Homo sapiens: one gene and its partners. The protein of the gene in region 4 interacts with the protein of the main gene of each other region in a pairwise test. Each region holds a gene or a part of one and is shown on either strand. Other genes may lie near its edges. The genes, in order: ZNF343, SAXO5, PTPN21, NEK6, GOLGA6L2, UBXN11 and KIAA1328.

What was found.
Region 1: the proteins of NEK6 (region 4) and ZNF343 interact in binary tests that used the Homo sapiens proteins (3 or more experiments, as listed by UniProt).
Region 2: the proteins of NEK6 (region 4) and SAXO5 interact in binary tests that used the Homo sapiens proteins (3 or more experiments, as listed by UniProt).
Region 3: the proteins of NEK6 (region 4) and PTPN21 interact in binary tests that used the Homo sapiens proteins (3 or more experiments, as listed by UniProt).
Region 5: the proteins of NEK6 (region 4) and GOLGA6L2 interact in binary tests that used the Homo sapiens proteins (3 or more experiments, as listed by UniProt).
Region 6: the proteins of NEK6 (region 4) and UBXN11 interact in binary tests that used the Homo sapiens proteins (3 or more experiments, as listed by UniProt).
Region 7: the proteins of NEK6 (region 4) and KIAA1328 interact in binary tests that used the Homo sapiens proteins (3 or more experiments, as listed by UniProt).

What each region holds. Positions count from the first base shown.
Region 1 is NC_000020.11:2,491,916-2,495,415, reverse strand, and holds part of ZNF343 (zinc finger protein 343), read left to right. Parts: exon of another isoform or gene 1-1; intron 2-1,371; 5' UTR 1,372-1,520; coding exon 1,521-1,638; exon of another isoform or gene 1,639-1,665; coding exon of another isoform or gene 1,666-1,723; intron 1,724-1,838; coding exon 1,839-1,897; intron 1,898-2,590; coding exon 2,591-2,717; intron 2,718-3,331; coding exon of another isoform or gene 3,332-3,384; exon of another isoform or gene 3,385-3,500. UniProt on the Homo sapiens protein: May be involved in transcriptional regulation.
Region 2 is NC_000019.10:7,496,273-7,500,347, reverse strand, and holds the start of SAXO5 (stabilizer of axonemal microtubules 5), read right to left. Parts: upstream 2,801-4,075; 5' UTR 2,666-2,800; intron 1-2,665.
Region 3 is NC_000014.9:88,471,508-88,475,007, reverse strand, and holds part of PTPN21 (tyrosine-protein phosphatase non-receptor type 21), read left to right. Parts: intron 1-1,205; coding exon 1,206-1,343; intron 1,344-2,542; coding exon 2,543-2,764; intron 2,765-3,500.
Region 4 is NC_000009.12:124,327,449-124,330,948, forward strand, and holds part of NEK6 (serine/threonine-protein kinase Nek6), read left to right. Parts: intron 1-3,500. UniProt on the Homo sapiens protein: Protein kinase which plays an important role in mitotic cell cycle progression. Required for chromosome segregation at metaphase-anaphase transition, robust mitotic spindle formation and cytokinesis.
Region 5 is NC_000015.10:23,438,538-23,441,390, forward strand, and holds the end of GOLGA6L2 (golgin subfamily A member 6-like protein 2), read right to left. Parts: coding exon 1,208-2,853; coding exon of another isoform or gene 1,006-1,207; 3' UTR 501-1,005; downstream 1-500.
Region 6 is NC_000001.11:26,296,637-26,300,136, reverse strand, and holds part of UBXN11 (UBX domain-containing protein 11), read left to right. Parts: intron 1-2,074; coding exon 2,075-2,175; intron 2,176-2,655; coding exon 2,656-2,710; intron 2,711-3,141; coding exon 3,142-3,218; intron 3,219-3,500. UniProt on the Homo sapiens protein: May be involved in the reorganization of actin cytoskeleton mediated by RND1, RND2 and RND3. Promotes RHOA activation mediated by GNA12 and GNA13.
Region 7 is NC_000018.10:36,835,627-36,839,126, forward strand, and holds part of KIAA1328 (protein hinderin), read left to right. Parts: intron 1-3,500. UniProt on the Homo sapiens protein: Competes with SMC1 for binding to SMC3. May affect the availability of SMC3 to engage in the formation of multimeric protein complexes.

The DNA of each region.
Region 1 (3,500 bases), on a different chromosome or scaffold from region 4:
GGCAAGTTACAAGGTCAAGCCTGATGTCTGGGACAGGGAAGTACCATCCTTTTATAGGGCAACAAATAATTGGGAACGATGATAAAATCTACCACAAAGGCCTCTTTTATTCTAATCACTAGAATTATATTAGCAAAAAGACTGAGAAGCATTTCATCTTACAAGAAGCTTCACAGTTTAGTAAAGACAGTCACGTAAATAGAGAAATTGCAATATGGTATGATGGCCAGGTTGGACAGAAGAGGGAGTGGTCATCTCTACCTATGGTGTTGAGGGATGAATTACAAGAGCTGCTTAGAGACCCCAGCTAGTCTCAGAAGGGTACTAGGCAACAATAGGCCTGTAGCCATTTGGGCTGAAATCCTGGACAGCGTCTGAGGAGCTTTTGAAGGTGGCATAGCTCCTAATACCACCTGCCTTCTTTGGGACCACATCAGTGTAGGACTTTGACTTGGGCCCATCAGGATACACAAATGCACATCTGTGGTAAGGTCATGTGGTAGACATGCATAGCAATGGAAGCTAGGAGGTTATCTCTTCAGAGTAATTGTGAGAACTGGAGCTCTCCCTTAACTAAGAAGGACTGAGTTTTGATCTCCTAAACTCCTCACAATACAGGGACATAGGGATTTTTTTTTTTTTTCTTGAGACAGGGTCTTACTCCTGCCGTCCAGGCTAGAGTGCAATGGCATGATCTCAGCTCACTGCAGCCTCGACTTCCCGAGGTCAGGTGATCCTCCCACCTCAGCCTGCTGAGTAGCTGGGACTACAGGCGCACACCACCATGCCCAGCTGATTTTTGTATTTTTTGTAGAGACGGCATTTCGCTATGTTGCCCAGACTGGTCTTGAGCTCCTGAGCTTAAGTGATTAGCTTGCCGTGGCCTCCCAAAGTACTGAGATTACAGGTGTGAACCACTGTGCCCATCCAAGACACAAGGAACTGAATATAGATGGAACCTTGGGTTGGGGCAGGGGAATCAGAAGCTGAGTTCTGCACGCCCCAGTTGGTCTACAGGAAACAGTCAGAGGCTCTTTCTCCACAGGCATTATGCTATATTCTGTCTTCTCTCTGACTCAGGCTTCAGGTAGTAGCAGAGACTGATCCAAAACATAGAGTTTGAATCTGAGGTGCAGAGGCAGAAGAAGTAAAGTTTGAGAGCTAAGGGAGAGTGGCAGAACACAAGCAGGAGGGCCTAGAAATGAAGGTAGAGTGAATGAAGGTAGAAAATCCAGGGATCCCATGTAGATGGAGACTCCGTGTTTGTTGAATGAGGAGGGTGTGAGAGGACAGGATCCCTGTTGAAGAGGCATAGGCCTAGGGCCCACAATAAAAGCCCCAGCAATAGCAAATTGCTTCTTCATCCCACAGGTCCTGGCTGCAGGGAAACAAGCTGGGCTTTTTATAATTAAGGTTGGAAGAAGTCACCACAGGCAGCAGAACTCCATCTTGAGATGAAATAACATCTACCTGGACCTCTGGCAGAATTTCAAGGCACACACTGGGCTGACTCTGGCGCCATGATGTTGCCTTATCCTTCAGCACTGGGAGATCAATACTGGGAAGAGATTTTGCTTCCAAAGAATGGGGAAAATGTAGAGACTATGAAGAAATTGACCCAAAATCATAAAGCGAAAGGTGAGAATTGTTGAGGGAGCCGGAGGGATGAAGAGGAAGCCAAGGCTCCAGGTTCACCTGAAAATGCTTCAGAGGTCACCTCTGAGTTAAGTGACTACTTCCTTCATCCTAAGGCTCAGAAGAGCTGCTCAGGGAGCGTCATGGTGGGGGGTGGGGGGTGGGGGGGTCTGGTTTCTCATAGCTTCTTTTTCTTTCCCTAGGCTTGCCTTCTAATGATACTGACTGCCCCCAGAAAAAGGAGGGAAAGGCCCAAATAGTGGTGAGTTGGGGTTACATTTTTTTTTTTTCCTGAAGTGCTGGCTCATTTTCCAGAGAATAGACATATATTCTCTTTCTTGGGAAAGGAAAAGGCGGTCAACATCTGGGTAGATGAGTGAAGCATTAGGCTTTCTTGAAAAAAGTTGTCAAAGCACATAGCAAAGACAGGGATTTTACAGATCCCATTTAGTAACCTGAGCTTTTAAAAAATGCTCATTCCAGACCCCATCTGTTCACTCCCATTTTTCTCTGTAATCCAAGTTTTCTTCCATTCTCTCCTCTAAATCTTTACCACTCCCTACTGCCCAGCACAAGCCCCAAGTCCATGATGCTTTTGTTCCTTCTGCAGCCCATTCTCTGCTGTTTCATCTCTGAATTCCTTCATTATGAATCCTCAAAGTCACTGTCTTAAACACAGCCTGAGGTTTACAAATTAATTCACAAATCATTTCTCCGGTGAAATCATATATGTCAAGGGCCTAGAATGTGTTCTGTGCTCAGTTATGCTCCTCACAGGTTTTAACAGAAAGCCAGGCAGACAGTAGTGCTCAGAAGAACTTCATATGGAGAACCATATATTCTGACGAATTACATCAACTTGCATATCCAGGCTCTCCAGGGTCACCAGCTGTGCTCCACACACAGGGAAGATTGATGGTGGCTTGCTATACATTAATTTACTGGTTGTTTGTAGGTACCAGTTACATTCAGGGATGTGACTGTGATCTTCACAGAAGCAGAATGGAAGAGACTGAGTCCAGAGCAGAGGAATCTATACAAAGAAGTGATGCTGGAGAATTACAGGAATCTTCTCTCATTGGGTAAGGCTGTGTTCTTTCCTTTCCTTCATTAATTCAGTAGAGATTTACTGATCACCTAATATGTACCACAAAAAAATGTTCTAGATACTTACAACACATTAGTAAACAAAATCGTAATCCCTGCCTCCATGGGGCTTACTTTCTAGTGTAAGGAGACAGACAACAAACAAAAAGCCTCATATACAGGGATATTATAATATGGTATGTTAAAAGGTGATAAGTGCAACATAGTAAAAAATAATGAAATAAGGCAGGATAAAGGGGTATTGGGTGTGATAGGGTGGCTGGCTGAAGTTTAAAACTGGGTATTTGAAATCAGTGAAGAAGTAATATTTGTCTAAAGACATAATGTGGTGAGGAGGTTAGAACTGTAGGTATCTAGTGTAAGAGCATTTCAGGTGAAGGGAATTATTGACACGAAGACCTTAATGAAGGGATGTACCTGCCCAGTATATGAAGCTGCAAGGAGGCAAGCAAGGCTGGGGGCATGGTTTGCAAGGGGGAGAGATGCAGCTCTGTGACATAAGTTAAAATTAAGAGTCAAGTTTATTGTGGTTTGGGGGTTTCATAAACTATGTTTTTTTCTTTTTCATTTGTTTACAAACCTAAACGAGGTCAGGAGATCGAGACCATCCTGGCCAACATAGTGAAATCCCATCTCTACTAAAAATACAAAAATTAGCTGAGCATGGTGGCATGTGCCTGTAATCTCAGCTACTTGGGAGCCTGAGGCAGGAGAATCACTTGAACCAGGGAGTCAGAGGTTGCAGTGAGCCGAGATTG
Region 2 (4,075 bases), on a different chromosome or scaffold from region 4:
CCTGGACGACAGAGCGAGACTCCGTCTCAAAACATAAAAAAAAATCTTTCATGTGGTGCCTACTGTAGGCCTGGCACACAGTAGGCACCACATAAATGATTTCTGTCCCTACTCTAGGCCTGGAGGCCAGCAGGGGTGGGGAACTAACATTAGTTCACAAAATAGACCTAGATCCCTGCCTTTGTGGAATTGATAATGGGGCGGGAGATGACAGACAATAATAAAAAATATAACAACAAAAATTGAAGAGTAGGTTAGAAGGTAATAGCTGGGTACTGTGACTCACACCTGTATCCAGGCACAGTGAGAGGTCAGAGCAAGAGGACTGCTTGAGCCCGGGAGTTCAGGACCAGCCTGGGCAATATAGTGGGACCCCGTCTCCACACACACACACACACACACACACACACACACAAATTAGACAAGTGTGGTGGGCTCAACCTCTTGGGCTCAAACGGTCCTCTCACCTCAGTCTTCTGAGCATCTGGGACTATAGGTGTGCACCACCATGCATGGCTAATTCTTTCTATTTTTTTTTTTAGAGACAGGGGTCTGGCTATGTTGCTCAGGCTGGTCTCAAACTCCTGGGCTCAAGCAACCCTTCTGCCTCAGCCTCCCAAAGTGCTGGGATTACAGGTGTTAGCCACCATGCCTGGCCAAGGGTAGGTTTTAACCACTGCTTCACAAAAGACATTGAGGCTCAGGGAGGTGGTCATTTGCTTGAGATTTGAACCCAGGGCGACTCTGATTCTAGAACTTGGAGAATTAACCACTGCATTCTACTGTATGTCTGATACAAGAACCGCGTCTTCTCACCCTCAGTCAGTTGTCAAGGCCACGGTTTTCTCCTTCTTCCCCTCTGGGGGACCCATTTTTGTTCCTCTGCCTAACTCCAGCCCTGCACCCCAGCCACTGGCCATCTCCGTTTCTGCCACACTTTTTCTCCCTTCTCTCCCCCTCCCCCGCCCCTCCCCCCTCCCCTCCGCTCCTTTCACTTCCCTACCTTCTCTCTCTTTCTTTCTTTCCTTTTCTTTTTGTGACAGAGTCTCACTCTGTCCCCCAGGCTGGAGTACAGTGGCACGATCTCAGCTCACTGCAACCTCCACCTCCTGGATTCAACTGACTCTCCTGCCTCAGCCTCCCAAGTAGCTGGGATAACAGGTACCTGCCACCATGCCCGTCTAAGTTTTGTATTTTTGGTAGAGACGGGGTTTCACCACATTGGTCAGGCTGGTCTCGAACTCCTGACCTCAAGTGATCTGTCTGCCTTGGCCTCCCAAAGTGCTGGGATGACAGGTGTGAGCCACTGTGCCCGGCCTGCCACGCACTTTCTTACTGGTTTTCCCCTGCTCTGCAGTTGTCCTAGGTCCTGCCTATTCTCAATCTCTTCCTGTCTTCACACCTTCTGAGAGTTAGCTCTCTCCTCTGACCTTCAGCTTCAGACTCCAAGCCTCCCCTGACCCTCCGCCTCTGCTCAGTCACCTGGGACTTTCTTGCCTTTGCTTAGATCACAAGTGTCTCCCATGCTCTCCTCTCTGTCTCCCTTGGAGACCAGCATTCCAAGTTCTCAGGCTCACCTCTTGCAGGAAGACCTCCCAGATCACTTCAACCCACAAAACCTGCTTACCTCTACCTATTTAGAAAACATGGATCAGACGGGTGCAGTGGCTCAGGCCTATAATCCCAGCACTTTGGGAGGCCGAGGTGGGCAGATCTCCTGAGGTCGGAGTTCAAGACCAGCCTGACCAACATGGAGAAACCCCATCTCTACTAAAAATACAAAATTAGTCAGGCGTGGTGGCGCATGCCTGTAATCCCAGCTACTCCAGAGGCTGAGGCAGGAGAATAGCTTGAACCCAGGAGGCAGAAGTCGTGGTGAGCCAAGATTGCGCCATTGCACTCCAGCCTGGGCAACAAGAGCGAAACTCTGTCTCAAAAAAAAAAAAAAAAAAAAGAAAAAAATACAAAAATTAGCTGGGCATGGTAGTATGCACCTGTCATCCCAGCTACTCAGAAGGCTGAGGCGGGAGAACCGCTTGAACCTGGGTGGCAGAGGTTGCAGTGATCCGAGACCACGCTACCGCACTCCAGCCTGGGTGACAGAGCGAAACCCCATCACAAAAATAGAAAGAAAACATGGATGAAGGGTGTGTGTGTGTGTGTGTGTGTGTGTGTGTATGTGTGTGTGTGTGTTTTAATGAAACCACAGTTTTTCAGTGTGTAAGTTTGTTGCTTTTTTTTTTTTCTCAGCTCACTGCAACCTCTTCCTCCTGGATTCAAGCGATTCTCCCACCTCAGCCTCCAGAGTAGCTGGGACTGTAGGTGTCCGCCACCACGCCCGGCCAATTTTTGTATTTTTAGTAGAGACGGGGTTTCGCCATGTTGGCCAGCCTGGTCTCGAACTCCTAGCCTCAGGTGATCCACCCTCCTCGGCCTCCCAAAATGCTGGGATTACAGGCATGAGCCACCGCGCCTGGCTGAGTTTGCTGCTTTTTGAATCATTTGCCCCCTGCAATAGTTGAGAGTTGAATATGACCTCCAAAATGGGTCATCAGAGAATCCAACAACTGAGACTACTAGCCAGGTAATCTTGGAATAAGTCATTAAGCTCCCATGAGCCTCAGTTTTCACCTCTGTACATCAGGGACGAGGACAGTGCACCTACCTCAAGGGATGGCGTGTGAATCAATGAGTTTTAGAAAATTCACTTAGCTACAGACCAGATCTTTGGGTCTCCCTCTGTCCCTGGTCTCTCAGAGGATCCTCATGTTCCTTCCCAGGCTGCATCCAAGGGTGGTCCAGCCCTGCGCATTGTGACCCCAAGAGCTTCCTTTGTGTAATGATACTGTCACAATGACCACTCAGCACCTCTAGGGGCAGCCGGGAGGAAAATTAGCAGGCAGGCTTGGTGCGAATACTGCCTCCTTAGAGCTCCAGGAACCCAGGCAAGTAATTGACTTTTTGGAGCCTCTGGGGTTTTGTTCGGTTGGTTTTGTTTTTGAGGTAAGCTCTCGCTATGTTGCCCAGGCTGGACTTGAAGTCCTGGGCTCAAGCGATCCTCTCGCCTCAGCCTCCCAAGTGGGTGGGTCCACAGGTGTGTGCCACCATGCCTGGCTAGGACTTAGGTTTTGTCATCTGCAAAAGGGGACTAATGATGGTAGCCAGTTCAGAAAGCAGTGTCAGTATTGAGGATTTGATTAAATAGGCTGCTGGTGTCCATTATTATTATCATCCTCTAAAGTTTTTCTGTCCCTCTACCTTCTACACACCCCACACAGAATGGACCCACTTCCCTGAATCACTGCACCTCTTGATATTATTCTAGGGCTCACAGATCTCCCTTTAAAGGGGCCGGTCACCCCTCCTTCCCCAGTCAAAGACCACCAGGAATGTACCTGTGATTGAACACATTCAAGCTTATTATTCATCAGAGAGAGAGAGAGAAAGAAAGAGAGAGGGAGAGAGAGCTCATACATGTCATAGGGCACTATGGCGGTCTCAGTAGGGAGGTGTTAGAAAGAACTTTTTTTCGCTATTTATTTATTTATTTATTTATTTGAGATGGAGTTTCGCTCTTGTTGCCCAGGCTGGGGTGCAGTGGCACGATCTCAGCTCATCGCAACCTCCGGCTTCAAGTGATTCTCCTGCCTCAGGCTCCCGAGTAGCTGGGATTATAGGCATGTGCCACCACACCCAGCTAATTTTGTATTTTTAGTAGAGATGGGGTTTTTCCATGTTGGTCAGGCTGGTTTCGAATTGCCGACCTCGGGTGATCCGCTCGCTTCAGTCTCCCGAAGTGCTGGGATTATAGGCGTGAGCCACCACGCCCGGCCAGAAAGCACTTATTATGGGATTTGCAATTCTGCTCGGTGTTTTGGGGGCACAGCTTAAGGAAGTAGGGGATTTGGGTGGGATGAATTTATTGGTTGGAAATTTTACTTTCTTTTTTGAGATGAGCAGATAAAAACAAATAAAAACAACACACAGGTGAGGCATGGTGGCTCACATTTGTAATCTCAGCCTCCCAAAGTAGCGTCCAGAAAAGGGCTGTTGTGGCTTGGTGTGGTGGCTCACG
Region 3 (3,500 bases), on a different chromosome or scaffold from region 4:
CCTTTCTCCTGCCTCAGCCTCCCGAGTAGCTGGGATTACAGGCATGTGCCACCACGCCCAGCTAATTTTTGTATTTTTAGTAGAGACGGGGTTTCACCATATTGGCCAGGATGGTCTCAATCTCCTGACCTCGGCCTCCCAAAGTGCTAGGATTACAGGCGTGATCCCCCGCACCTGGTCAACTTAGTGTTCTTATGCTTACTATTCTCAGAGAGGAAAATCATGCTCTAATAATAATTTTAGGAAACACTTGATTTCAGGAGACAAGATTTTGTTGATGCTTTCTCTTCTGTCCTATCCTCCTGGTGTCATGATGGAGATTTTAGCCCTGTTTTATTTTCCTTGTTTAAAAACGTAGCCGTTCTGAGAGGTAGCGTGATCTAACCCGGGTCATCTAAGTCTGCACTAGAATGCAGAGTAGCATATGAGGAGGGGGCTTAACACACAAAGGGGGCTGCTGCAGAAACCATTTAATTTTTCAGAATGACTTAAAGAATTTATATATTTTAAAAATTATAAAAAGCTGTCCGGGCATGGTGGCACACGCCTGTAATCTCAAGCACTTTGGGAGGCCAACACTGCTTAAGTTCAGTTGTTTGAGACCAGCCTGGGCAACATAGTGAGACCCCATCTCTACAAAACACACAAAGATTAGTTGGGCATGGTGGCATGTGCTGGTAGTCCCAGGTACTCGGGAGGTTCAGGTGGGATTGCTTGAGACTGGAGGTTGAGGCTGCAGTGAGCTATGATGGTGCCCCTGCATTCCATCCAGCCTGGGTGACAGAGTGAGACCCTCAAAAAAAAAATTTATAAAAGCTTACTATAGTCAATTGATTGCATTTAAAGCTTTTGTTTTTTTTTTTTTTTTTTTTTTTTGGACTTCAGCTGATTTGTTACGTCTGTCTTGTTTTAAAAGGAATGCAGTCTGCCTGGAGCCTCACCTTTCATTACAACAGAACTTTGTAACCAATAGTGTTTCAAAACCTTCTATCTGGAAGACTTTATCAGGGCTTTGGCCTTGAAAGGAATGTCTTCCTACTAATGTTTGTTAAACAAGTGGTGTGTGAAGGAGTGTAATCTTTCTGGGTTTATTGGCAAAGGAGAACACTCCCTCTGTGTGTTCCTGGTCTTCAGTGCATTGAAACTTCTTTTCACAGGGGTTGTATTTGTGTATATTTCATATATACATATAAATCCTTTTACAGGGAATGAAAAAGACTCGAGTAGATGCAAAAAAAATTGGTCCTCTTAAACTGGCTGCCCTAAATGGACTCTCCCTATCTCGAGTGCCTCTGCCTGATGAAGGAAAGGAAGTGGCTACCAGAGCAACGAATGATGAAAGGGTATGTATGGGACACACAGGGCTTTGTGCCTTCTCTGGAACAACCGGTAAATACTACGCAAATGCCTTCATGAGATTTTGGTGAATTTTCTAACACAATTTAATAATAAATGAGTGTTAAGGAATTTTGTAATATGGGCCTCAAAATTGGGGCAAATGTATAGCTAATGTCTTAATAGATAATTTCAGGTTCGAATGCTGATTTTTTGTTTGTTTGTTTCTCAGTGTTCTTTTTTACCTTCTCCTGGCCTTTTGGAGCAGTCTTGATTTTGATGGCCTTAAAGTGAGAAGAAATCTACAAAAATACAGGAGCATACAGGGGAAAAGCAGCAGACATTGACTTTTATTATACTGAAAGTTTATCTCGAGAGTAGTTTCTCAATTTTTCAAAACTTCCTTTGTGCCTGAGGTGTATTTTCTATGAGGTTTTATTACATCAAAATCAGATAGGCATACATTTGCTTTACAACGGGATCCTGGAGGTAGTTTCGAATATTTCCTACTGCTTTAGTCTTTTATATATCGTATGACATAAAATGGAAACATTTGTTCATAGCTGTTGGAACTCATTATCCGTCCCCTAGATTTACTTACTGTTCCCCAGGAGAATTCCATCTATTAGGGGTCACAAAATTGACCACAGATCTAGAGAAAATGAATTCAACAAATTTCTTTAGGCCAATTTTCAACTTTAAACAAAAGTTTGCATTATATTTCTCACCAAAATGATTGTCTTTTGTTCTTTTAACTCTTGTTGTTGTGGCTTTTTAAAATTTTAACTTCATTTTCACCTAGAATTTTGTTTCTGTTTTGGTTTTGGTTTGGTTTTTTTGAGATAGGTTCTCATGGTTCACTGCAGCCTCAACCTCCTGGGCTCAAGCAATCCTCCTGCCTCATCCTCCCAAGTAGATGGGACCACAGGCATGCACCACCACACCTGGCTCGTTTTTTAATTTTTTGCAGAGACGGGGTCTCACTGTGTTTCTCAGGCTGGTCCTGAACTCCTAGGCTCAAGTGATCCTCCCTCCTTGGCCTCCCAAAGTGCAGGGATTACAGGCATGAGACACCGTGCCCAACCTAGAATTTTCAATATTATACAGTGCTAGATTTGAAGCAGAAAACAAGATTTCAAATATACAGTCAAAAGGTAGCCACGACGTGTGGCTGTATTCATGTTATTACACATATTCTGTTTTATAGTGTAAAATTCTGGAACAACGATTAGAACAAGGAATGGTATTCACAGAATATGAAAGAATTCTTAAGAAACGGCTAGTTGATGGGGAGTGCTCAACAGCACGACTCCCTGAAAATGCAGAAAGAAATCGATTCCAAGATGTTCTTCCTTATGATGATGTGAGAGTGGAGTTGGTCCCAACTAAAGAAAACAACACTGGTTACATCAACGCATCACATATTAAGGTGAGAGGAACGCCTCAAGTAATCAACAGCACATGCAGTTTCAGTTAAGTTACAAGAATGGTAAGAATTGTATTCATGTCTGTTTAGAATTCAGATATTTTAAAATTTATTTTTATTGTATTGTTTTAGATAAACACCCTAGTTTTAAACATTTGTGACAAACTGTACTGCAAGCTGGGAAATCCACATACCAGTGCTAGATAAAAAGCGTCTATCAGACAGAGCCAAAGTCATGTCTACTCTCCATGTGCGAAACCACTCTGCCCCCAACACTGTTACCAGGACTCAGGGCGCACTTATTTGCCCGGCTTTTTTTTTTTTCTTTTGCCTTTTTTGAGATAGAGTCTTGCTCTGTCGCCCAGACAGGTGGAGTGCAGTGGTATGATCATGGCTCCCTACAGCCTTGACCTTGTGTTGCCTGGCTTTAGAACTTTGTCCTTCTAAATCTGAAGACCTCTTTTTAGCTCATAAATTCTGGGAGCCACTGAATTGCTAGTTTTTCCTCATCACATACTGACATGCATTTTTATGTAACAAAAGTGTCTGGGCTTTTTGATGGTGTTCACAAAAGCTTTCAACTTACCAAGGTGCCATCTGTTCTCTTTACATACTCTTTATAATAATTTTTAAGTATCATTTTTTTTCTTTGAAGAAGTGCTTTTTTCCTGGAACCAGTATAATGCCATTAAACTGGGGTAATGTTTATGGTGAGAGATAGGGGGTCCAGTTTTACTTT
Region 4 (3,500 bases):
AGGGGGACCTGTCTGTGCCCCAGCAGCCCCCAGCGGTCCTGGTGACCATGCAGGGAGACGCAAACATTCTCCCCACGTGTGTTTGGTCAGTTAGTGCAGGAAGATGCCTTTTTTAAGCCCCAGGGTTTTCTCATCTGTTCAGAATAGTGACCCAGAAGGGAATCAGCTGTGGCCAGAGGAGCCCAGCTGGGGCTTCCCACACCCCCTGATCACCTCCCAGCCCTTGCGGGAGAAGCTGACTGAGCCGGTTGCTTGGAGCAGGGGGCGTGTCTGTGGCACAGGGCGGTCATCTTCCCACTGCTGTGAGTGTCCCGTTCACGGGCAGCACCCTTGGTCCATCCCTCCTAGGGGGTGGACATTTGCACTGTTCCTAGTTTCTGGCTTTTAAACTGGCGGTTTTGAGGCTGTGGGGACCAGGTGCCTGCCAGGGAGGAGGTGACATTGTAGCTGGACCATAAAGGGAGACCAGATGCTGTTGGGACAGGGAAGGGGAGGGAGCAGCGTTCCAGGAAACAGTGGGTGAGCCTCGGTGTGCGGCTGAGCTTGGCTTTGCCACAGACCAGGGTCCTTGCAGGAGTGGCATGAAAAGCGGGCAGGGCCTTGAACTCTGAGCTCAGTGGGCTGGACACCACCCTATGGGTCGGGGGGTGCTGAAGGGCTGGACTCCGGAAGAGACTTGGTCAGATGTGTTTTGGGGACAGGTGAAGCAATGGCAAGCTTCAGTATCCACACACTGGGTATGTAACCAAATGTGAAACTTGGAATGCTGTACGATGGGGGATTTTTCATTTAGTGAGAACAAAGGAACCAAGAAAGCCCCCGCTTCCCCACCAGTGGAACACAGGAGCAGGGTCTCCTGTGCGTTACTACAAGGCTGTCTGGGTTTCACCACGCCCATCTGTGGGAACATTTCCCAGAGGCCCATGGAGTGGGCGAGGGCCCCTGCTTTCTCAGGGCTATTTCCTGGCTCTTTGAGGTGTGTTTGCAGTGGAAGGTGCCCCCAGGCCCACCCCCTGTGTGCTGTGCCCACCAGCATCCGCTTCCCCAGGAGGGGGCTGGGCCCCAGGAGCTGCCCGCCGCCTCCTTGAACACCGCCCCATTCCAGCTCATTTCCACCCCACTCCATGGCTCAAGCCAGGACGTCTCCTATCCCCAGACCCCCGAGTGCCTGCGGCAAGCGGGGTGTGAGAGACAGCAGCATTGTCTGGGCGGAGGCACTTTCTGGAAGTCACAGTGTCTTGTGGAAAGTGTCACTGTTCATACAGGTTCCAGAGAGACTCTCAGCGCGTCACACACACTTAGGAGAAATGTACGAGCCTAGAGACCAGCGACTCCCAGCAGCTGATGGAGCCAGCGGGGCTGGCGGGGAGGGGGTTGTTTTGAAACTCTTGTCCCCACCTGGCCAGGCCTCAGGAGCTCTTCCTTTAGCTCCAAAGGGAAGATGTGTAGGGACCCACCCCCCAGGGAGTATGGGACGTTCCACTCATGCCCTTGACAGCCCCAAGCATCCAGCCATCCTTCCCTTTAGCAGAGGAAGAATCAGAAATCCAGGCGCTCGAGAGATTTTTCCGAGGTCACATGGCAGCAGGCCTCTCCTTCAGAACCCACGCTGCTTCCAGGAAACGAGGGCCGGGGGCCTCGGCAGATACCGTTGGAGTCCCCCTTTGGGGACCCGGGCCACTGACTCTCCGTTGCTGGAAGGAAGCCTCGTCTTTCCTTGTCCCCTCAAACATTTACTTCCCTTGTGAAAAACCAAGTGTTTCGGTCAGTTTGGGACTGTTTACCTGTGTGGTTGAAGGGCTTCGAAAAGACCAGGAAATTCAAGGGAAGCTGTCAAAGAGAAGAGTTAGAACCGCTGCGTCCTGTCCCCCGTCAGTCAGCACCGAGCCTTTCTCTGTCCCACTGCAGAAAAAAGACTGTGGCGCTCCGTCAGAGAGGGTTAGGATCGCATCATTAGGAATGGGCAGAGATGCGTCTCATCCGACAGTATGATTTTATTGACTTGGACTGGTGCACTTATTATATTAATGAGAAGGAATTGGAACTTGGGAGAAGGCCGCCCTCATAAGCCGGGCTCTTCCCAAGCCCTCCGAGCGCCGACCAGGCCACATGATGGGTGGAAGGAGCCCTCCTGGGGCCTGTCCCCACTCCGGGCTCTGTGCCCGGCATCCAGGAGAGATGCCCAATGAGCTGAGGCCTGCACGGAGCTGAGCAAGTCCCTGCCAGCAGGACAAGCTCCCAGAACCAAGGGCCTGCACCCACCAGGTTCTAGAATGGTGACAGTGCCAAGCTAAAGCCCAGGACCTGTATCTCCAAGACCCAGGGGAAAGACCCCTTCCACCAAGAGGTTCTGCAAACAGCTAAGTCTTGCACACACGTTTGGTTGGGCAAGAGATTGAACTAATTACCATTGCATCGTGACTCAGGAGGGGCACAGGGGCCAGGGACACTTCACGCCCTGTGCGTGGGGATGAATTATGCATCTGCCGCATCTCATGTGCACCTACTATGTGGGGATGCTGTGGTGGCAGCCACGTTGCCCCAGCAACCACCTCATCTCCTAAGGCTGCTGACCCAAGAGCTGGGCTTATGCAAATCTGGTCTCCTCCCACTTCCCCCCTCCCTGGGCCCCCTCCCCGCCTCTGTATTTGCTAACACGAGGCTGGCATGAAAGGGCATTAGTCAGTGCCATGGTCGGGCTGACAGGTGCGGTACCCAGCGGTGGCAGAGTGGCTGCCTCGGTGTCAGAAATAGGAGCCGTAATTAGAGCGCGGAACAGAATGAGCGTCAGACGAATTACCAGGCAGCAGATCATATTTGTCAGGAAGGATTGCATACATAAAAATTAAGTGACAGTACACGCCGGCGTAATGCAGGAAAAATGAAAGATTTGCCTATACACAGCTCACAAGCTACAAGCAAGTGTCTCGCTCCGAGCAACGGCAGCAGCTGCAAGACAAATCACGGGGCTGGGAGAGCGGGCGGGCAGGCCTGGCTCCTCGGCTGTAGTGACAGGACAGTCTCGGTGACAGGCAGCCACGGGTGACAGGGCAGGAAGGGCGGCTGGTCACACCCAGGCCCATGCAGGGCCCGTGCTGCCTCTTGGGGGCTGGGAGAGCAAGTCTAGTTGGGGGTGACCCCATCAGGTACTCGAGGTCACGGCCCTGCTGGGTCTCCCAGGGCTTAGCCTGGCGCTGAGGCGCAAACCCCTTCCTTCTTCTTCCTTGAGCAAACTGCCTGGCCCTGGGCTGTGTGCTGGGGATATGCGATTATGCAGCTTTCGAGGGGACAGACACAGTCCATGCCAGGTGGCATGGTGAGGGGACAGGTGGGACTGCCTCTTGGGGCCCACTGTGGGCAGGCAGGGCAGGCGTGGGGCTCTGTGATTCTATACAGAGCCCCAGGGAGCCCAGGGTGGCTCCACCCCTCCCAGAGCCGCCCTCACTTCGTTACTCTGTAGCCACTGAACTCACTGAAAAGATGAGTTAAAGACGGAGAAA
Region 5 (2,853 bases), on a different chromosome or scaffold from region 4:
TTTTCAACTTTCACTAAAGGCAGAGTAGCTTGTTATAGATTAGCTTCCCCACAAGAACAGTTAGAGAAACTGGACAAAAATGTGCCCCCCCATCAAAAACAATTGTTTGAAGGTAATGGGAGACTTCAGCCAGAACTTGAGTGACCAGGCCTGGGAGGTGAGCCTGACAGTCTGTAGTGCTTTCCCACATTTGGTGATTGGTCAACAGTAGAGGGCTAAGAGGCTAAGAAACTGAGTATTATGAAGTGGTAGTTAACAGGCTGGAAAGCCTAGCTGAATGTTTGGCACTCTCACAGGGCTGAATGAGAATTTGGGTCCCAGGAAGGAGATGGGACCTTGGTGGCAACTCTGGAAGGGCCACCCCTAGGAGTCCAAATGAATAAAAAATAGACCAGCCGTCACAAACTAAAACCTGCTTTGAACTAGCTTAGTCCCAAACTAGATGAAGGCAATCTGCTCTTACTCCAATTGTGTGCCATAAAGTCAAAGTCAATACTCTCTGGAGGCACATAAAAGTTTACTAGGAATGCCATAAAACAAAACAAGACTAAATGAGAAAGACCAAGAAGAAAAACAATAGAAACATACATAGATATCAGAGTCCTCAGGTAGAAACTTTTTTTTTTTTTTTGAGATGGAATCTCGCTCTGTCATCCAGGCTGGAATGCGGTGGTGTGATCTTGGCTCACTGCAGCCTCCTGAGTAGCTGTGATTACAGGCGTGCACAACCACGCCCGGCTAACTTGTATTTTTAGTAGAGACGGGGTTTCATCATGTTGGCCAGGCTGGTCTTGAACTCCTGACCTCAGGTGATCCACCCCCTCTAGGTCTCCCAAAGTGCTGCGGTTGTAGGTTTCGGCCACAAGGCCTGGCTAGTATTTTACCACAATTTAAAGTAAATTTTCTTTTCTTTTTTTTTTTTTTTTTCAAGTTTGTGCTCAGACTATATTCACACAGTGACATGGCGGCTTATGCTTCTGTAGGCCTTGTTGACAGTGCCAACTTTTAGATATTGATGATCTTCATCTTTCTCTTGTCTCCTCGGTAGAAGAATGGGATGCAGGAGGTACTGCCTAATCCTGGGCACTGCTGGGCGTTCTTCATCCCACAAAACAGCTGCATGATCTCCTGTGCAGTGGGGTTGTCCTGCGGAGAACCCTCCCCAGCCTCTCCTCCTGCAGGCTCCACACTGCCAGTGTGGCTCATATTACAAAGAACTTTGGAGGGAGGGAGGCAGGGCTCTGAGCACCGCTCCTCGTGCTCTGGCAGCCTCTCCTGCATCTTCTCTTTCTGATCTCGTATCCTCTCCTCCTTCTCTCGCATCTCCTCCTGCCCCCACATCTTCTCCTCCTGCCCCCACATCTTCTCCTCCTGGCCCCACATCTTCTCCTCCTGGCCCCGCATCTTCTCCTCCTGCTCCCGCATCTTCTCCTCCTGGCCCTGCATCTTCTCCTCCTGCTCCCGCATCTTCTCCTCCTGGCCCTGCATCTTCTCCTCCTGCTCCCGCATCTTCTCCTCCTGCTCCCGCATCTTCTCCTCCTGCTCCCACATCTTCTCCTCCTGCTCCTGCATCTTCTCTTCCTGCTCCCACATCATCTCCTCCTGCTCCTGCATCTTCTCTTGCTGCTCCTGCATCTTCTCCTCCTGCGTCTTCTTCTTCTCCCGCATCTTCTCCACCTGCTGCCACATCTTCTGCTCCCGCATTCTCTCCTCCTTCTCCCGCAGCCTCTCGTCCTGCTCCCACATCCTCTCCTTCTGGTCCCACATCTTCTGCTCCTGATCTCCTGCTCCTGCATCTTCTCGTGTTCCCACAGCTTCTCCTTCTGTTCCGGCAGCCTCTGCTGCTCCCACATCTTCTTCTTCCTGCTCCCACATCTTCTCCTCCTGCTCCCACATCTTCTCCTCCTGCTCCTGCATCTTCTCTTCCTGCTCCCACATCTTCTCCTCCTGCTCCCGCATCTTCTCTTCCTGCTCCTGCATCTTCTCCTCCTGCTCCCGCATCATCTCCTCCTCCTCCCGCATCTTCTTCTCCCGCTCCCGCATCCTCTCCTCCTCTCGCATCTTCTCCTCCTGGTCCCATGTCTTCTTCTCCTGCTCCTGCGTCTTCTTCTCCTCCCGCATCTTCTCCTCCTGCTGCCACATCTTCTTCTGCTCCCGCATTCTCTCCTCCTTCTCCCGCAGCCTCTCGTCCTGCTCCCACATCCTCTCCTCCTGGTCCCACATCTTCTGCTCCTGATCCCGCATCTTCTCCTCCTGCTCCCACATCTGCTTCTCCTGCTCCTGCAGCCTCTCCTCCTGTCTCCACATCTTCCTGCTCCCGCATCTTCTCCTGCCGCCACATCTTCTTCTCCTGCCCCCACATCTCCTCCTGGTCCCGTATCTTCTCCTCCTGCTCCCATATCTTCTCCTCCTGCTCCTGCATCTTCTCCTGTTCCCACAGCTTCTCCTTCTGTTCCGGCAGCCTCTGCTGCTGCCACTCCTTCTCTTCCTGCTCCCACATATTCTCCTCCTGCTTCTGCATCTTCTCCTCCTGCTCCCGCATCGTCTCCTCCTCTTCCCGCATCTTCTTCTCCCGCTCCCGTATCCTCTCCTCCTCTTGCATCTTCTCCTCCTGGTCCCGCGTCTTCTTCTCCTGCTCCTGCATCTTCTTCTCCTCCCGCATCTTCTCCACCTGCTCCCACATCTTCTCCTGCTCCCGCATCCTCTCCTCCTTCTCCCGTAGCCTCTCGTCCTGCTCCCACATCCTCTCCTCTTGGTCCCGCATCTTCTGCTCCTGCTCCCGCATCTGCTTCTCCTGCTCCCACAGCCTCTCCTCCTGTCTCCACATCTTCTCTTCCTGCTCCCGCATCTTCT
Region 6 (3,500 bases), on a different chromosome or scaffold from region 4:
TTCCATTTTACCGGAGGAGGGAATTGAGGTGGAAAAAGAGACAGGAAGAGCCTGGCCTAAGGTTCTGCGGCCATTTCACCACAAAGCCAAGATCTCCTATACCCTGGCTGGGGTCAACTTTCTTTTTTATTTTATTTTTTTTGAGACAGGGTTTTGCTCTGTCATCCAGGCTGGAGTGCAGTGGTGCGATCATGGCTCACTGCAACCTCAGCCTCCCAGGCACAATCAGTCCTCCTGCCTCAGCCTCCCAAAGTGCTGGGATTACAGGCATGAGCCACCATACCCAGCCAGGTCACTTTCAGTAGTAACCATGGCAACCAGGTTCTCTCTTTGAAAGAGCTCCAGGTGTCCTCTCCCTGCTTTCCCCTGTCATCCCCTCCTCTCCCACTCCCAGCCAATATCTGTCCCTACCAAGGTAACAGATGAGGACTTGCCTATCTTATTTTACTTCTCTGCCAGCAGTGTCCTATACTGTCCACTGCTCCTTCCTTCTCAGGACCTCCACCAAGCTCTTAGGCACCAAGCTGCTGCCCTCCCATTACCCTCTGCTTCTAGGCTCTGTCTCTTAGCTGTCATCACCACCTCCTTTTTTCTCTCAGGTTTTTTTTTTGTTTTTTTTTTTTTTGGAGACTGCCTTGCTCTGTTGCCCAGCCTGGAGTGCAGCGGTGCAAATCACTACTTACTGCAGCCTCGACCTGTCAGGCTCAAGCAGTCCTCCCACTTCAGCCTCTCAAGTAGCTGGGACTACAGACACACACCACCATGCCTGGCTAATTTTTGTATTTTTAGTAGAGACAGGGTTTCTCTATGTTGCTCAGGCTGGTCTCGAACTCCTGGTCTCAAGTGATCTGCCCGCCTCGGCCTCCCAAAGTGCTGGGATTACAGGTGCGAGCCACTGCACCCAGGCCCTCAGCTTTTCAATGTGATGTTCCTCTGGCCTGGATTCTCCTCTGTGTCCACTGTGCCCCAGTGAGCTCACCTGCACTCCATGTGTAGACAGTTCCCAAATGTTTGTCAATTAAGATGCATTTAACTATAAGTCAAAGAAAACCCTTCCTCAGCCAACAAGAACATTAAGGAAGTTTTGTTATCCCACATGCAAAGAAATCCTAAAGAGGCAGCTCCAGGGGTGTTAATTCAGTGACTCCAAGACATCATCAGGGGCTCAGGTTTCTCCATCTTTCCACTGAACCTGCCTTGACATGTCAGCCTCATGTGGTTGTAGGATGATGGCCGCGGTTCCTGCTTCATACATAGAAAGGACACTGTCTAGGGGAAGAAAAGGAAAAGGCCTGCTTCTTCCTGTAGGTTTCTCTTCTTTTCCATTTTCATACTTTTTTTTTTTTTTTTTTTTTTCTGAGACAGAGTCCCTCACTCTGTTACCCAGGCTGGAGTGCAGTGGTGCGATCTTGGCTCACTGCAACCTCCGCCTCCTGGGTTCAAGCGATTCTCGAGTAGCTGGGATTACAGGCACCTGCCACCACGCCCGGCTGATTTTTGTATTTTTAGTAGAGGCAGGGTTTCACCATGTTGGCCAGGCTGGTTTTGGACTCCTGGCCTCAAGTGATCCACCTGCCTTGGCCTCCCAAAGTGCTGGGATTACAGGCATGAGCCACCGCATGCCCGGCCCTGGCTACTGTTTTCTACAGCACCCCGCATTCTGGCTTTGTCTGGCAGTTTGCCCGTGGGGTATTTGCCTCACTCCTCTATCTGCTGTTTTGCGTACCAACTGGACACTAGATTTGGAGGTTTGATTAGATCGAGGGTGAAATTCTTGGCAATGCTTCAGGGTGATGTCACCCATATGTTACACCACTTCCTTGTATATGTTGGACAAATTACTTGATCCCTTTGTGTCTCAGTTTCCTAAAACAGTTCATTTACCTCCTGGGTGTGTTTCAAGGATTACAGGGGGTTGATCTACATGAAGTGTTTAGAACAGTTCCTATGATGCCAGTGGGAGCTGCTCTCAGTACCTTCATTTCCATTCCTGGGACCCCTATCCTCCTCCCTCCCCCCCACAACTCAGCCTCGGCTCTAGGTCTGGGCTCTAAAGACTTTGTGTGCTTGGCAGTCCCTGCATCCCATGACTCGGAGCTGATGGCCTTCATGACGAGGAAGTTGTGGGACCTGGAGCAGCAGGTGAAGGCCCAGACTGATGAGATACTGTCCAAGGTGGGGCTCCAGGTGGGAGAGGGCCAGGGGCCGGTCTGAGAGGTGGAGGGACTGGGCTGGGGAGGCCAGGAGTTGGACTAGGGTGGGTGATTCTAGAACCGTCTACCACACTGACCTGCCCAGTTCGAGGACCAGGTGTGGCCTGGGCCTGATCTAGGTCCTGTGACCTGAGCCGAGAGGCTGGGGGGTCTTCCCCTCAGCTGAGCAGGACCCAGTAGACCCTGGACTGGGTGGCACAGTGGACTGCTGAGCAGAGCGCGGCACCCTCAGATGTGGGGGTCCTCAGGTGTGGGCCGCACCTCTCCCTACCTCAGAGGAACTGCGAGGGTTATCTGAGGTCCGGGAGAAGTGGCTGTGCCAAAGGGTGGCAGGGGCTTGCTGCTCCCCAGCATCCAACATAGGCAAAGCTCTGGAGCTTCCTGTCTGGGCAGGGCTCTGGGAACCACAGGCCCTGTGCTCACCCTGTGTCTTATGCTACAGGATCAGAAGATAGCGGCCCTAGAGGACCTGGTGCAGACCCTCCGGCCACACCCAGGTAGGGGGCTCTTGGAGGGCTGACCTGCGCCCCCAGTCAGGCACCTCCCCTGGGCCCAGGGCTCCTGGAAGCTTCACAATGGCTTCTGGCATCAAGAGCATCAAGCTGACTACTTGGTGGGGTCTGGACAGCTGAGCCCACAGAGGGGCTGCAGCATATCCAGGACAGTGCTGGAGTCACTCCATGCCCTCCTACATGGGACCGAGTCCCATCTGAAGTGTGGAGGAGAGGAGGCTCTGAGGGGAGTGGCAGCCTCCTAGGGCCCATCAAGGCACCGCCACGGGGTCAGAGGAGAGGCCAGAGAGGTGGGGGGCCAAGAGGCAGTTCTTGGGGGATCCCCAGAACAGCTTCTCCAGATGACCCTCAGGGCAGAGGTGACCTGGCAGTGTCTTGCTGGGGCAGCTGAAGCCTGTCCCTGTCTTTCCCTGAAGCCGAGGCAACCCTGCAGCGGCAGGAGGAACTGGAGACGATGTGTGTGCAGCTGCAGCGGCAGGTCAGGGAGATGGAGGTGAGAGAGCTGGGCCCCGGGGGATGCGGGCAGCCAGCAGTCCCCAGCTCTTCACGGCATGTTCCTCAGGAGCTGGGTCCGAGCCCACCTCTCTGGGCCTCTCCTCGTCACATCCCACCCAGGGACCCTGCCCTGCATTTCCCTACCCAGGACTGGCCCAGACTTTAAAGAGCCAGGGAGGTGTCTGGGGCTGGGGCACACCCCTGCTTTTGGGCCCTCTGAACATGCCTCTCCCCTGCTTAGCAGACCTCATGGCTCCCACTGAACTGAATTCTACAGTCC
Region 7 (3,500 bases), on a different chromosome or scaffold from region 4:
CAAAAGAACTACATTCTGATCTGTGTGGCATTGGTAAATCAAACTGATGAGAATTGCTTTTTAATTAGGCATCCTTTTTGATTTTTATTCTTGTGAATTTATTTGATAGATGAACCCTCGTAAAGATGAGGGACAAATCAATGACTAGGCATAGTAATAGTATCGGTGCATTCCTTTGGCACATGTCCTATCTGACCAGTTTATTTTACTTTAATTTTTGTTATATTTTCCCTCTGCAACCAGAGTTGTTCAATACCACTTCACACTCACTAGGATGTCTACACAAAACTTGTATATGAATGTTCTGGAATCTATAACCTGTGGACCAAATCCTTCTGCCTGTTTTATAAATAAAGGTTTTTTGGAATACAGCTGTGCTCATTGTTTTACATAATTGTCTATGGTTGCTTTTGTGTTACAATAGCAGGGTTGCTACAGAGACTGCATGCCCACAAGCTAAAAACATTTACTATCAGACCTTTTATAGAAAACTTTTTTCAGTCTGTGAATTATGTTCTCAAAGATATTTCCAGTGCCTCATTTATTACTACAGGATTTTACTGTGATTGAATCAAAAGGCCTACTTTACGTTACTTGTACCAGTGTACCCACTTCACACTGGGGTGTGAATAGTTGAATTTGCAAGTTCTTATCAAAAAAAGTTAAAAAATGTTTTTTCACATAATGGTTGATTTGTTTTACATTGAACAATAGCCTTCTTTTAGATTAAGTTCATATTTTTGTCCTATTGGCTATAACTTTTGATTGGATTATTTCAGTGGCTTCTTTAGAGATTATAGTATACATCTTTCATTTATCATAGCCTATTATCAAGTGATATTTTCCCACATTACCTATAGTTTAAGGACCTTTCAACACTGTACTTTATTTCTCACCTCCTGACTTTTTTGATATTGTTGTCATACATTTTACTTATGTGCACAGACCCCAAAATACATATTACATTTGCTTTAGTCAACTCTCTTTTTTTTCAAATTGAGATATAATTTGCATATAAAATTCACCTTTTTAAAGTGTACAGTTTATTATTTTGATTTTGTATGTGTTTATATTCACAGAGTTGTGGATCCATCACCACAATCTAGTTTCGAAACATTTTTATCACTCTAGAAAGAAACCCCATACCAATTAGGCACTTCTCATTCCCCAGTCATCTCAGCCCCTAGCAAACACTAATCTGCTTTCAGTCTCTATAGATTTGCTTGTTATTGATGTTGCATATAAAAGGAAATCACATAATATGTGGCCTTTTGTGACTGGCTTCTTTGATTTAGCATAATGATTTCAAGGTTCATCTATTCTGTATCATTACTTCATTCCTTTTTATGTCTGAATATACATTTTGTTTATCCATTTATCAGTCAATGGACATGTTCAACTTTCTAGCTATTATGAATAATTCTTCCATGATCATTCATATACAAGTTTTTGTGTAGACATATATTTTCAGTTCTCTTGTGTATATACCTATAAGTGAATTGCTGTGTCGTGTAGTTTTATGTTTAACCTTTTGACAAAATTCCAAACTGTTTTTTAAAGTGGTTACACCATGTTACATTCGACTAGCAATGTATGAGGATTCAGATTTCTCCACATTCTTGCCAACATTTATGTCCATCTTTTTTGAGGATGGCCACCCTAGTGGGTGTGAAGTGGTAATTCAATGTGATTTTGATTTGCATTTCCTTAATGACTAAATGATGATGAGCATGTTTTTATGTGCTTCTTGGCTATTTGTGTATCTTCGTCAGACAAATATCTAGTCATATCCTTTTTTAACTGAGTTATTTGTCTTAGTACTGTTAAGTTATGAGTTCTTTCTAAATTCCATTTACAAGTCCCTTATCAGATACATTATTTGCTAATATTTTTTCTCATTCTATGCATTGCCTTTTCACTTTTTTATTGGTGTTCTTTGAAGCACAGAAGTTTAAAATTTTGATGAAGTTCAGTTTATCTAGTGTTTTCTTCTGTCTCCTTTGCTTTGGTGTCATATCTGAGAAATTGTTGCCTAATCCAAGGTCACAAATATTTGTGCCTATTTTTTTTCTAAGAATTTTAAAGGTTTTACTCCTACATTTAGTTCTCATTCCATTTTGAGTTAATTTTTGTATATGGGGTGAGGTGGTAGTTTAACTTTATTCCTTTGCATGTAGATATCCAGTTGTCCCAGCACCATTTGTTAAAAAAACTGTCCTTTCCCCTTTGAATTTCTTGGCACCCTTGTCAAATATCTGTTGACCATAAGTGTAAGGGTTTATTTTTGGACTCTCTGTATTCTGTTCCATTGATTTATATTTTTATTTTTGGAATTAGGAAGTATAAGTCCTCCAACTTCTTCTTTTTCAAGATTGTTTTGGCTATTTTGGGTCCCAGTGTTTCCATAGGCATTATAGAATCAGCAAATGTTTTATACTTTTTGATGTTATTAGAAACACAGTTGTTTCTGAATTTCACTGTTGGATTGTTTATTGCTAGTATATAGAAATTCAGTTGATTTGTGAATTGATCTTGTATCCTGCAACTTTATCAAACTATTTCTAATCTAATAGTTCTTTTGTGAATTCCTTACCATTTTCTCTATATAAGATGAAGTTGTCTGTGAATAGAGATAGTTCACATATTCTTATTGGATGCCTTTATTCCATTTTGGATGCATTTTATTTTAATTGCCTTTTAAAGAAATTTTACAAATGCAACAGAAGTCTTTTAAATCTACTCATGTAGTTACCATTTCTGGTGTTTTCATTCTTTCACGTGTATCCAGATTTCCTAAAAGACTTCCTTTAACATTAGTTCAGGTATGCTAGGAAAGAATTTTTTCAGCTCACGTATGTCTGAAAAGTCTTTATTTCTCTTTCCTTTTCAAAAGATATTTTTGCTGGTTATAAAATTCTGAGTTGATAGTTTTATTCATTCAGTGCTTTAAAGATGTTGCTGCACTGTTGCCTGGCTTGTATTGTTTTTAAGAAGTTGGCTGTCATTTTTATTCCTCCTTATTTTTCTGTGTGTATGTGTTTAAATATGGCTGCTTTTAAGATTTTCTTCTTATCACTGGTTTTGAGCAATTTGGTTATAGTATACCCTGGAGTAATTTTTTTTTTTGAGGTGCAGAGTTGCTGTGTCGCCCAGGCTAGAGTGCAGTGGCACGATCTTGGTTTACTGCAACCTCCGCTTCCCAGGTTCAAGTGATTCTCCTACCTCAGCCTCCTGAGTAGCTGGGATTACGGGCGTGCACCGCCACACCCGGCTAATTTTTGTATTTTTAGTAGAGATGGGGTTTCACCATGTTGGTCAGGCTGGTCTCGAACTCCTGACCTCATTATCTGCCCGCCTCGGCCTCCCAAAGTGCTGGGATTACAGGTGTGAGCCACCATGCCCATCCTACCTTGGAGTAATTTTTAAAGTATCTCTTTTGTTTGAGGTTTGTTGAGCTTTTTGGGACTGTGGGTTTATAGTTTTCATCAAATTGGGAAATG